4 separate regions of the Homo sapiens genome follow, and regions 2, 3 and 4 are each reported to be linked to region 1. The links are microRNA targets in miRTarBase. Many come from high-throughput screens and were not tested one by one. Region 1 holds a microRNA gene; each other region holds the end of a gene's coding sequence.

What was found. The annotated mature microRNA hsa-miR-548t-5p reads CAAAAGUGAUCGUGGUUUUUG and lies in region 1 at 1,047-1,067, opposite strand. An mRNA with a match to its seed (bases 2 to 7 or 8) in the 3' UTR can be bound and repressed. Matches are read on the target gene's strand: a 7mer-m8 pairs with bases 2 to 8, a 7mer-A1 pairs with bases 2 to 7 and ends in A, and an 8mer does both.
Region 2: miRTarBase lists RAMAC as a target of hsa-miR-548t-5p. Seed matches in the 3' UTR shown: 7mer-m8 at 2,015-2,021.
Region 3: the mRNA of ZNF180 is a reported target of hsa-miR-548t-5p. Seed matches in the 3' UTR shown: 7mer-m8 at 659-665.
Region 4: the mRNA of TRIM37 is a reported target of hsa-miR-548t-5p. Seed matches in the 3' UTR shown: 7mer-m8 at 1,672-1,678.

The regions. Positions count from the first base shown.
Region 1 is chr4:173,265,989-173,269,235 of GRCh38, reverse strand. It overlaps MIR548T (microRNA 548t), which reads right to left and starts at 1,076; the gene lies at 1,003-1,076. The region is part of intron 2 of GALNT7 (polypeptide N-acetylgalactosaminyltransferase 7); the gene reads right to left. It overlaps LOC124900812 (a long non-coding RNA gene), which reads left to right. Exons shown (of 3, transcript XR_007058367.1): 2 at 1-3,247.
Region 2 is chr15:82,989,833-82,992,832 of GRCh38, reverse strand. RAMAC (RNA guanine-7 methyltransferase activating subunit) reads right to left here. Exons shown (of 4, transcript NM_031452.4): 4 at 1,776-2,952. The coding sequence ends at 2,766. It also overlaps a transcript of C15orf40 not described here. Among named protein-coding and RNA genes, the nearest start is that of RAMAC, 5.1 kb to the right of the region's middle.
Region 3 is chr19:44,473,553-44,476,799 of GRCh38, reverse strand. ZNF180 (zinc finger protein 180) reads left to right here. Exons shown (of 5, transcript NM_001278509.3): 5 at 1-2,357. The coding sequence ends at 398. Among named protein-coding and RNA genes, the nearest start is that of ZNF180, 25 kb to the left of the region's middle.
Region 4 is chr17:58,996,556-58,999,802 of GRCh38, forward strand. TRIM37 (tripartite motif containing 37) reads right to left here. Exons shown (of 24, transcript NM_015294.6): 24 at 1,647-2,904. The coding sequence ends at 2,822. Among named protein-coding and RNA genes, the nearest start is that of TRIM37, 110 kb to the right of the region's middle.

The sequences.
Region 1 (3,247 bases):
TTCACATTTCTAAAAGCCATTATCAGATTTCATTTTTGAAATAAATTAACAGACAAAAAATATTTTGTTTTGTTCTGTGCCTCTGTTGTCTGAGTGCCCCTATAATAAGACATGCTTATCTGACAAACATCAGAGGAGCCATGCCCCTCTGAGAAACATCTTCACTGTTACTGAGATTTGGGTTTATTATAATGGGGTACTGGGCATTTTGCCCACTAACTATATAGTAAATATTTCTGTGATTAACCTGAGCCCCATACTAAATATACAAAAATTCAGTGGCTCCTTATTATTTGTGGATTCTACGTCCACAAATGTGGATTGCAATTGGAGATGCCTGATGGGCATGCACACGAGGATGTTCTGTTTCTTGTTTCTGCTCATAGAGTAAACAAGTGTCCGGGTGCGGTGGCTCACGCCTGTAATCCCAGCACTTTGGGAGGCCAAGAAGGGCGGATCAAGAGGTCAGGAGATTGAGACCATCCTGGCTAACACGGTGAAACCCCATCTCTACTAAAAATACAAAAAAAAAAAAAAATTAGCTGGGCGTGGTGGTGGACGCCTGTAGTCCCAGCTACTCGGGAGGCTGAGGCAGGAGAATGGCGTGAACCTGGGAGGCAGAGCTTGCTGTGAGCCAAGATGGCGCCACGCCTGGGCTACAGAGCGAGACTCCATCTCAAAAAAAAAAAAAAAAAAAAAAAAAAACGAGAGAGAAAACAAGTGTCCTATTTGCAGTTTGTTTGGTGCCACAGATTTTCTCATTTTTGTGCTTTTAGTTGGTAATTTTGCTGTTTAAAACAGCCTCCCGAGAATAATGTCAGTGTGCTACCTGGTATCCTAAGCACAAAGATGCTGTGCTGTGTCCTGTGCAGAAAATCCACGTGAGACAAGCTTTGTTTGGGTGCGAGTTACAGTGCTATTGGCCCTGAGTTCAATGTAAACCCATCAACGTTATAGGTAAAATAAAGTGTCTTTAAATAGATACATGCCTAAAACAAGGTTAGGTTGGTGCAAAAGTAATTGTGGTTTTTGTCATTAAAAAATTGCAAAAACCACGATCACTTTTGCACCACCCTAACATTTTTCTTCACTTCTCTTGACGCAAATTATAGATTCAATCACCCAGCACTTACAAGCAAGCATTTCTTTATCTTAGGTTGACCTTAAGAACTTCTTTGTATTTACTAACTTCCTTTAGGACTCCTCCTCTTTTGTAGTAAGACGGCAGGATGAAATACAATGAAGAGGGTACCATATTTTAAAGATAAGGCTGAATACCACACACCTGGCATGATGAGAGGCCTATACAGAAAAAAGAGCTTCTGAAGCTTCTCTATGCCACACAAGGGATGAAGGTGGCCTCCAACAACTGTGACCTCCAACCGGTGGAGCTCATGTGTGATATGCCTTTTATGTCCTTTAGCACATTTGTTACCCACAATAACTTTACAAGCCAAGTATTATTATCCACAATTGCTAGAAGAGGAAACCAAAGCTCCCTAAATGCTCAATATCATGCTCATCACTCTTTCAGCTCTGTATGGGATTCCCAAAGTGAACCTCATGTGTATTTATGAACTTGGCACTCTCGGATACCATGCAGCACCCCTCATTTTCTGTGAGCTCTGCTTGCTGAGGTGAAGACTCTGCTGCAAAGGGGCCCCTGGTCCTGTGAAGCTGGTCCCCCTGCTGTGCCTATTCTAAGGAATGGCCATTGCTGATGACATTTGCTGGTCTGTGCCCAGGCATGGTTTCCTGGCGCTGCAGAAGCCACTGGCTGGTAATCTGCCTATGGGTGTCCACAAACCCTCAAGTACAGAAATTTGCCATCCTTCAGTTTGACAGGCATTTTAATGGAATGCTCTTTCAGTGTATCTCCCTAGCATTCAGGTACGCGTTTCAGGGGCCAGGCTGGAGGGTGATCTAAGTGACAGGCATGGTACAATGGTAAATTTTGCCCATACCCTCAACACTGATCCTCTACTTCTAGGCCATACTAAGGTGGCTTTTAAAAATTAATATATGATAATAGTACCTATTTATGGGATACATGTGATATATGGATACATGCATATAATGGGTAATGATCAAAGCAGGGTATTTAGGATATGCACCACCTCAAACATTTATCATTTCTTTGTGTTGGGAACATCCCAAATATTCTTTTCTAGCCCTTTTGAAATACACAATACATTGTTGTTAACTATGGTCACCTGCTGTCCTATTGACCATTAGAACTTATTCCTTCCAGCTAACTGTATGTTTATAGCCATTAGCCAACCCCTCTTTATCCCACATCCCAGCCCTCCACACACACACACACACACACACACACACACACACACACACACACACACACACACACACCCTTCCCAGCCTCAGGTAGCCGTCATTATACTCTCTACCTCCATGAGATCAAATTTTTTAGCTTCCACGTGAGTGAGAACATGCAATACTTGTCTTTCGGTGCCTGGCTTATTTTTAACATAATGTCCCCCATGCTCATCCATGTTGCCGAAAATGGCAGGATTTTATTATTTTTATATCTGTTCTCTTATTAATAGTATAACTTCTTACAACTTAGATTTAAGCAGAGGCCCTTCTACATATAATTGGAATTTTATATGTCCACATTTAAAAAGAGTTACCTTGGGATTGATAACATACTTCTTTTGCTCCTAAGTAAAAATTTTTATTACTATAAAATGTTTCACAAATGTATCAAAAATACTACAATTAAAACTACTGCTCTGATCAACACACTTTCGTGCTCTTTTGTCTGGTATAGTGAAAGGTCGGTCCTAGAAGACCTGGATTCATTCTTCTCAGCCACTTAATTTAATCCTGGATGATCACATACTGTTTATACTTGGGATTCCTTATCCACAAAGTGAGGGATCTCTCACAGTACCAAGGAACCCCTCTGGCCCCCTTCAGTTCTAAAATTCTTTTCTTTTCTTTTTCTTTTTCCTTTTTGAGACAGAGTCTTGCTTTGTTGCCCAGGCTGGAGTACAGTGGTGCTATCTCAGCTCACTGCAACGTCCGCCTCTCGGGTTCAAACAATTCTTGTGCCTCAGCCTCCTAAGTAGCTGGGATCATGGCCGCACGCCACTAGGCCCAGCTAATTTTTTTGTATTTGTAGTAGAGACAGGGTTTCGCCATGTTGGCCAGGCTGGTCTCGAAATCCTGGCCTCAAGTGATCCATTTGCTTCATCCTTCCAAGGTGCTGGGATTACAGGCATGAGCC
Region 2 (3,000 bases), not on the chromosome of region 1:
CATGCAGCATGCAGAATTTACTCATGTTAAAAGGTTTCCTCCCATTTTTTCAAGCACGGCTGATACTCAGGACACAAGCAGCCTAGCTGTGTTGGGTGTTAAAACATTTAAATACTGTTGGAAAACCACCTCTCTTCTGAGCTTCCTGAGAAGTACTCCTCCAGCGCTGGCCTTGGACCCATACATCTCCCTTTGTGTCAACAGCTGGCACAGCACAGAATCCTGACCTAAAGCTACAGTCAGCTATACTGTCCCAACTACTGGTCAGTGCCTGTGCTTTCTCAGGAGATGATTTTATAAATCTTTTTTTTTTTCTTTGAGAGAGTTTCGCTCTTGTTGCCCAGGCTGGAGTGCAATGGCATGGTCTCAGGTCACTGCCACCTCCACCTCCCAGGTTCAAGTGATTCTCTTAACTCAGTCTCCCGAGTAACTGGGATTACAGGCATCCGCCACCATGCCTGGCTAATTTTCGTATTTTTAATAGAGACAGGATTTCACCATATTGGCCAGGCTGGTCTCGAACTCCTCACCTGGGGTGATCTGCCCATCTCAGCCCCCCAAAGTGCTGCGATTACAACTGTGAGCCACCGTGCCCAGCCTATAAATCATTACTTTTAAGAGACAGCATCTATCTAGCCCAAACTGGAGTACAGTGCCATGATCCTAGCTCACTGTAGTCTTGAACTCTTCCCGGACTCAAGGGAGCCTCCTGCCTCAGCCTCCTGAGTAGCTAGGACTACAGGCGTGCACCACCACACCCAGCTAATTTTAAAATTTTCTGTAGAGACAGGATCTTGCTACATTGCCCAGGCTGGCCTCGAACTCCTGGCTTCAAGTGATCTTCCCGCCTCGGCCTCCCAGAGTGCTGGGATAACAGGTGTGAGCCACCATACCCAACCAGGTGATATTTTTGATAACACTTCTGCTTTCAGAGAAGATTCTGGGGTGTAGTCAGGACATTACTATCTAGACTAAATATCTGTAGTATCAAATCCTATCTTTATATAACAGCACTGGCTTCTTGCCTACTGATGTAATTAGGGAGGTTACAGGGAAAACCCTTACTATTAAAATTGTATTTGCATCTTAGTGTGACTGCCCGACTTATTAGGTCATTTCCAATAAAACAGTTACCCGAGAGGATGGCTCTTCAGGAAGGGAGAATAAAAGGGAGAGGTAGATGGAGAGCATGAAGTACCTGGAGAAGTCAACCTCGAGGGCCTAGAGTGGGGTGCTAAGAGAGAAGGCATTAAAAATAGGTTTACGAAGATGCCCCCGTTTTTTTTATGAGATGAAGTCTTGCTCTGTTGCCCAGGCTGGAGTGCAGTGGCACGATCTTGGCTCACTGCAACTTCCGCCTCTGGGCTTCAAACAATTGTCCTGCCTCAGCCTCCCGAGTAGCTGGGATTACAGGCATGTGCCACCACACCCGGCTAATTTTTGTATTTTTAGTAGAGACGGGGTCTCATCATGTTGGTCAGGCTGGTCTCGAACTCCTGACCCCAAGTGATCCGCCCACAGCCTCCCAAAGTGCTGGGACTACAGGCATGAGCCACCATGCCTGGCTGGAAGACGCCTTTTTAAATATATATATTTTTTTGTCACTCTAATAAAGTCAGGAAGGTGCCTGTTAATTCCTTTGACCTATGTTGAAATTTGCACTCTTAATGTTACTGTTAAACCAAATAAGCCCTTTTCAACAGATATGAAGGACAGCATAAAAAAACCCAAAAATCTCATTTCACCATATTAATAAATGGGCTAACTGCCAGAACTTGGGAGTGAAGATGCTTAAATATTTTAAAATTTTTATTTGAATGAAATCATTGTAATAATCATTAAAGTGATTTGAAATAGAATGATCTCTGTGAAAGGAAGTTTATAGCATCACTATTTATAGGAGAGAAAGCAGCAGAGGTATGCATCTGGAAGTGAATATAACATTGTAAAATCAGCCCACATTAAATACCAAAAAAGTAAGAACCATCAAAATGCAGCATTATTTACAGGATTAAAAAGTGTGAACAGTACAGAGTTAAACTTTCTTATGTGTGAATTTTGACCTGCTATGTTGTTAGCAAAAAGCTTTAGTGTTTGTATAAAATGATGTGTACCCTTATCCCAACCACCACCAGATCAAGACACAAACTGACAATGATTCCTTCCTTATTTTACAGCTTTATTACTGATTTCCCTCTAAAAAGAGACTCAAGTGTGGAGCTGACTCATCTATAGATTAAGGAATCACAAAGTACCATAGTCACTTAACAAATGCAAAAAAAAAAAAAAGCAATTGTTTTACCTTTCAACTGCTGATGTTATGTACAATCTATCACAAAAAGCATAGCTGTGCATTCATGAGCTGATTATATCAACCTCTAGAATTTTAGAAACGAGCACATCTAAGCATATGGATACTCTCTTACCTTACAAAGTAAAAGCATTTTCTATTTTAAAATTTTTATTTCTGTGTAAAACAAAGAATTCCTAGAGGTCAAATAATATACCAAACTTAAAGCACTATTAAGTCATGAAACAAAGAAGATTCTGAGGTAGAAGTCAAGCAATATAATCCACAGTTTCAGGTATTCCCAGCAACCATCGCATTTCGCAAGTAAGATCTATTTTTTTTAAAGTCTCAACTTCCAAAAAATCAATAATCCATTCTGTAAAATCAGATGTAAAACTATGACCAACAGAAGACACCCAAACTTTTCTCATGGTAACAGAGTAAATGCTTTTACTAAAAGCTGCCAACATTTCTATCAGTAGTAACCGTAAGGAGGCCGCTGGTTGTAACCATAATGTCCATATTGCTGGGGATAGTAAGGTTCTTGTCTGTGTTGCGGGTAGTTGTTACCCCAGGATCGTCCATGCCACTGATTGGATCGATTGTCACTTGGCCACCCCCATCTGTTGTCCCTGCCTCTGAACTGTCTGTTGTCTTGCAACCTACAACAATAAAACAAAAAAGATCTTTAAACTTCCCTTGTTAAAAAA
Region 3 (3,247 bases), not on the chromosome of region 1:
GTTCTCACCTTGTTATGCATCAGAGAATTCACACTGGGGAAAAACCGTATGAATGTAATCAGTGTGGGAAATCCTTCAGCCAGAGTTATGTTCTTGTTGTACATCAGAGAACTCATACTGGAGAAAAGCCCTATGAATGCAGTCAATGTGGGAAGTCCTTCAGACAGAGTTCATGCCTTACTCAACATCAGAGAACTCATACTGGAGAGAAACCATTTGAATGTAATCAGTGTGGAAAAACATTTAGCTTGAGTGCTCGACTTATTGTGCATCAAAGAACTCATACTGGAGAGAAACCCTTTACATGTATTCAGTGTGGAAAAGCTTTCATTAATAGCTATAAACTTATTAGGCATCAGGCAACTCATACTGAAGAGAAACTCTATGAATGTAACTAGTTTGTAAATCAGCTGGGATTTCTTCCTTTTTATTTCATTCTTTTAAAAAATTTATTTTAAGGTAGTACATGTAGTTGGAAGAACTACTATAAAAACAATATATGTGGGAAAACTTCCAGCCCTCTGTTAATTGTGTGTCTCAAATTTGTTCTGGAAAAGAAAGGGGGAAAGTCTATGAACGACTTTTCAACCTGGCAATTCCATATACAATGTTAAACTTGATTCTTATGACATATTCCTATGAAAATAATAAATACTGGCACTTTTCCTTGCAGAAAGCACTCAGACCTGAATCAGAGAAAATCATATGCCAAAGCCAACTGCCAGTGTTAGACCTCTTTTTCCATAAAGAGTAAATGGAATGCTAACACTAGTGGGCTTATTGAGAAAATTTAAAGGTTGCTGTAGTGTTTAGAACTTAGGCTGGAAAACCATATTTTAGTGCATCATTTTACTACATGATCTTCCAATTAGATAGCTTGTAATCTGTTCCTTACAGCACTTGCTGTTGTTACATGTGAAGATTTTATAAATTTTAGGAAAGTGTCTATGATATATAGTGAAAAGTGTGGGAAAAGAATATAGAAATAATATTCACTTCTAAAACCATTATGATAAAATATTTGTGTATGGATTAGAATAGAAAGGGATTATGGATGTATCTATTCAATTTCTCAGTTTATGTTGGGCCTTCCTTTTTGGAATGTACGCTGTTATGCTATGATAAATGATATAATGAGTAAAAATTATTCAAAGCCAAAAATGAAATACAAAGATTTCCTTCTTTGACTATTTAGGAAAGACTAAGCAACCAAATAGCAAAGATCCCTCAGGATAATGAGGTTTATGTTTGGAATAGCATGAGCAGATTACTACTTAGGACATAGATTCCTAGGAACATTCCTCATTGAAAATAAAATGGATTCCTGGAAATAGGTAACTAGAAATTTTGGCCAGAAATGGTTTCATATGAAGAACTGAGAATGCGTGGGAAGTATAGAGGGCAAGTGGGCTTATTTTCATATATGCAAAGCAATATTAAGGAACTCTATTTTCATGTTTTAGTTCTTCCCCTCATGTAGCATTGTCTCTTTCCTCTGGGATATGTTCCCTGATGTGAGAGTCCTCTGAATAGAAGGGTGCTTCCCTGGCTCAGTGCTGACCGTCTAAATTATGCTTGCAAAAATGCTTTCATGAGGCAAAGTTTTAGTTACTCTTTGATATTTAAGATTTGATTAACATGTCTTTCTGACCTTTCCCTTGAATCATGAATTTGAATCCTGTGGATGACCATATATTGAAGCCTCTGATCCCAGAAAGGTAATAAGCTGAAAGTTGAACTGAGAGACCAGATAATAGAGGTTAATACCCTTGGGATAGGAAAGAAAACTTAAAGGGTAACTGATGGGGTTATCCTTAGCAAAATTCTATCCCTATGAGATGACCCTAAGTGGAGCCATCTCTATGAGGATTAATCCAGAGATTGTTGCACACCTGGCAGTGTCAGGTCTGGGAAAACAGTTGCTGATGTTTTCATGGAGTGTGAAATACTGAAAGCTGCGGGCATCCCTTGGGGACCACTGACCCACACTTTGAAGAACCCTCAATGAGTCTGAAAGAGGTTCAGTATCTCTTGGGAAGGATGTGTTCCAGGCTCCAGGCCTAGTCTTACATGGCCAGTGGGGTTGAAAGACTGTGCCCCTGCAATGGTCTTTTCCTAAGACAGTTGAACAAAGTTCCAAGTCTGTCTGTCCTATTTTAACCATCTTTAAGAAGCACAAAGGGGATATGAGAAAAACAGATGCTGAAATGAAAATTTTAACTGATATCTTACTTATCTCACAAGTCGTGTAAAGAAAGAAATGATATGGTCGAATATTAGATTAGATGGTTTAATGATGTTTTGAGTGTTATATATGAGCTATGATGAGACCTAGAAAATAAAGTAAAAATAAAAAATATATAAGCCATGAACATTCTTCATATTCAGTGACAGTCTGCCTGCCACACCCAGGAATTACAGAGACACTCATAGACCTCACGGGATCCTCCCCTATGTCTCCCATCTCTTCACCACCAGCCCTCAGGGAGTCTCATGTCTCCCAATTACTCTCCAATCATTCCTAGATTTCTGTAACAGTCAGGCCCTGACACCCATGTAACAAGCAGAAACTCAGGGACCTCACAGGGCTCTGGCCCCATGTCTCCCAACTCTTTACTCCAGGCCCTCAGGTACTCTCCTGTGTCTCCCAGATTCTCTCAATCCCCAGCTTACTGCAACATTCAGCTTCCCAAACCCAAGTATCACCTATAGACAAAAATCTCAGGGCCCTCTTCTATCACGTCTCCCATCTCTTCACCTGCAACCCTCAGGGACTCTCCTGTGTCTCCCAGCTCCTCTCCAACCATCCCCAGATTTCTCCTTGGGTCAGCCCTGAACACACAGGAGTCACCCAGAAACTCATAGACCTCACTGTGCTCCTCCCTTATCTCTGTCACCTCTATACCACCATTCCTTAGGGCCTCATCTGTGTCTCCCAGCTATTCTCCAAGCATCCTCAGTTTTCTGCAAGAGTCACCCCTCAGCATTCAGGAGAACCCTAGAAATTCACAGAGCTCACCAGATTATTCCCCAACTACCTCCACCTACACAGCAATGGCTCCCACATACTCCCTGGGGGCCCCACACCTATCTTCCTTTACACTCAGAGACTCCCAGGGCCTCACAGTCACTCCCCATTATCATCATTCAGCTGTAAGTCCTTGCAAATCTCCTGGCCAACGTGATGCATTTACCTGCCCATTTCTCCACATTCCTGCTCAGGGTCCCACACCTAGCCGCAGAAGAG
Region 4 (3,247 bases), not on the chromosome of region 1:
GCAGGGGGATCACTTTGAGCTCAGGAGTTGGAGGCCAGCCTGGAGTGAAACCCCATCTCCACAAAAAATAGAAAAATTAGCCAGGTGTGTTGGTGGACACCTACTCAGGAGGCTTAGGTGGGAGGATCACTTGAGCCTGGGAAGCAGAGGCTGCAGTGAGCCAAGCTGGTGCCACTGCATTCTAGCCTGAGCAACAGAGTGAGACTCCATCAAAAAAAAAAAAAAAGTATATATATATGTGTGTGTGTGTGTGTGTGTGTGTGTGTATGTATGTATATATATGTATATTTATATATCAACATCATATCCCCCCTGATGTGATGCACTAAGGGCCTTCCCAATAATGCATAACCTCAATTTAATATAGGAAAGCATCTGTCAAACCCAAATAAGAAGAACATTTAATAAAATAACACATCCTCTTCAAAAATATCAAGGTCATGAAAGCAAGGAAAGGCGGAAGAGCTGTCATATACTGAAGGATCCTGAGGAAACATGGTAACAAAATACAATGTGGGATCCTAGACCGGATCCTAGAACAGAAAAAGAACATTTGTGAAATAACTGGTGCGATCTGAACAAATTCTGTAGTTTGGTAAACAATATTGCAACCAGGATTAACTTCTTAGTTTTGATCACTGTTCTGTGATTATGTAAGGCATTAACAAAAGGAGAAGCTGGGCAGAGGGTATACGGAAACTCTTGCACAATTTTTTCAACTCTTTTGCAAACCTGAAATTATCTCAAAATTAAAAGCTAAAAAAAAAGAATAATCTTTAGGTTTTAAATTATTAGGTATCAGAATGTTGGGTCTGCTGCAAGTGAGATAAAGTGGAAAAGGCACTAGACCAGCAGTTCACCCCATCCCTGCCAGTGGTTTTGAACCTGAAGAGAATCATACAACCTCCCTGAACCTAAGGCTCCATGGCCAAACAGGTTTGATACACAACTCATCTACCTCAAAGGTTACTTAAAGATCAATGACACAAGTAGTTAAAGTTGTCCAGAAAGGACACGTTCACAGACAACACAAGCATTAATGTATCTCTAGCCCTAAGAAAACTCTATTCAGGAGAGATTTTCCAGGAATGAACTTGAGATAAAATACTAAATACAGAAGCAAGGTAACAGCAGACTGTTCTTCAGCAAAAAAGGAAAGGTTACAAAAATAAAAATAAAAAAACATGCTGAGGGCTCTATCAGGGTACAGAAAGAGCAAGAAAGTAGGACAAGCAGAGAGTGGAGCAACTGGTTCTTCTCCTGTGCCTCTTCCTTCCCTCTCTGCTACCTAAAATTTAGCATAGCAGACTACATCAAGGAAGAGGGAAAACAGCGGTGTTCCCGACATCACCAAGGAACTCAGAGCAGCTTTAGTATATAAGGTGGCTTGGAAACGAGGGGGAAACTACTTTCCTGTCCTAAAAGCAAACAGGTCTGAACTAAAAGCTATCATCTCTGAAGAAATCTTTTGGCCTTTCAGGTTTATTCTAATTTTAGAATGACTGGGATCGATGCTAGGCATCACTCCTCGCCATTAGACTAAACACAAACTAATCAAATGTTTGGATCTTCTCTACACTACTAATGAGGCAATGAGTAGAAAAGAAGGGGTTTCTGGTCCCAATTTAATAAACAGCAGAGGCATATTTTCTCAAGTTGATTTTATTAACAAAAAGTGCAAACTATTTTGAACAAAAGTAAACTATGAGTCACAGCATTCAGCAAGACATCAGACACGGAAGAGTGAACAATATTCACTAAGTAAAATACAGCAGATGAGATGTCTCTCACATGTATATTTAATTATTCATGCTTTTTCAATAGTCTCTTAGTCAACTTTCAGTGTAATTTCCACAAATATATAGCAGCTCAAACACAAATGCAGGAGCACAATGGCAAAGTTTGGCAACTGTTTTGGGCTAATTATGAGTATGAAAGAAAACCTTATATCACAGTTTCACGTTCATGTAAGCCACTGTGCAACATGAATGAATCTTTAAATGTGTTGACACTGAAATCAATGTACAACTAATGAAAATAAAGAAGAAAAGGGGGCTTTAAAATATTTGTTGCACTACAGTCGTATAGTAAGAGGCAGAAAAAAATGAAAGAATTTTAAATAATCTTACACGTGTCTACAGGGCCAGGAACGTAATGAATCCATGTTAACTTAATTTCATTTAAAATTACATTTGTAGAAGTCACACAACAGAAAGATACCATGCGGTTGAACAGTGTGCCTGTACTTGAACAAGTGAGAGAAGATACATACTCCAAAAAGGAGATTCAGTCTAGTGTTACTTCAGTTATTCACATAGTGTCTACAGGGCAGAATCTCTTCCAAAGCAATTTTCTGTTCACTAATCTACAGGCACTAATGGAACTGTAATTAAAACCCCAAATATAAAGATGATTATTTAAACACAACTAAGCTCTAGCCAAAGACAGTAGAGCACCAATGCCGGGCGGGTTACTGACGGCATGCAGGGCCTGGAGGTACATTTTCTGGCAGTTAACCAGCCTTCTGCTGTAGTAGACAAACTGCCTTTTGTGAATGTACAAATTTGCTAAATTAATAGAGAACTACATTGTTATTTCCTTACATTACAAAGAACTCTTCCCATACTGTTTTTCCCATGTACTACTGCTGTCTTAGACTAAACTGTGCCACCTTCCAACAGTTTCCAAATTACTATTTCAGGTCGAGATAATGAAGAAATAAGACCAAATCTGATTATCTGACTGATGACAAATTTGAGCACCAACTACAGCAAAATTCAGGGTCAAGGTAGCTTGCAAGTCAGTTCTCTTGATTTGGCAATTACCTTCCACTATTTTCATCTGTATTGAAGCTGAGATCTTCAGGGCCTATTTGTTCACCATCAGGAAAACTGGAATGTGTATCTATGATTAAAAAATAAATAAAAAATTTAAAATTTAAAAGCATATAACAAGGGCAGTATTTTCCTTCCCAAGTCTTTAAATAATCTTACCAAATGTGTTATTTAAGTGATAAAGATGTGCTGGGTTGTGAACAAATCTCTGTCTTCAGAGAATTTGTGATCTGAGTCAGGTATAAGCAAACACAAAGGAAAAATAAAGGAGAAAAAAACAAAATGTGTAATAGACACCCACAATTAAAAGATGACAGGAATTGTCTCATTTTGTCCTCCTGGGGACAATCTGGGGACAGCTTAAAAAGGGAACAAGAAGCAATGGTGTATATTCTCAAGATTCAAGACCTTAT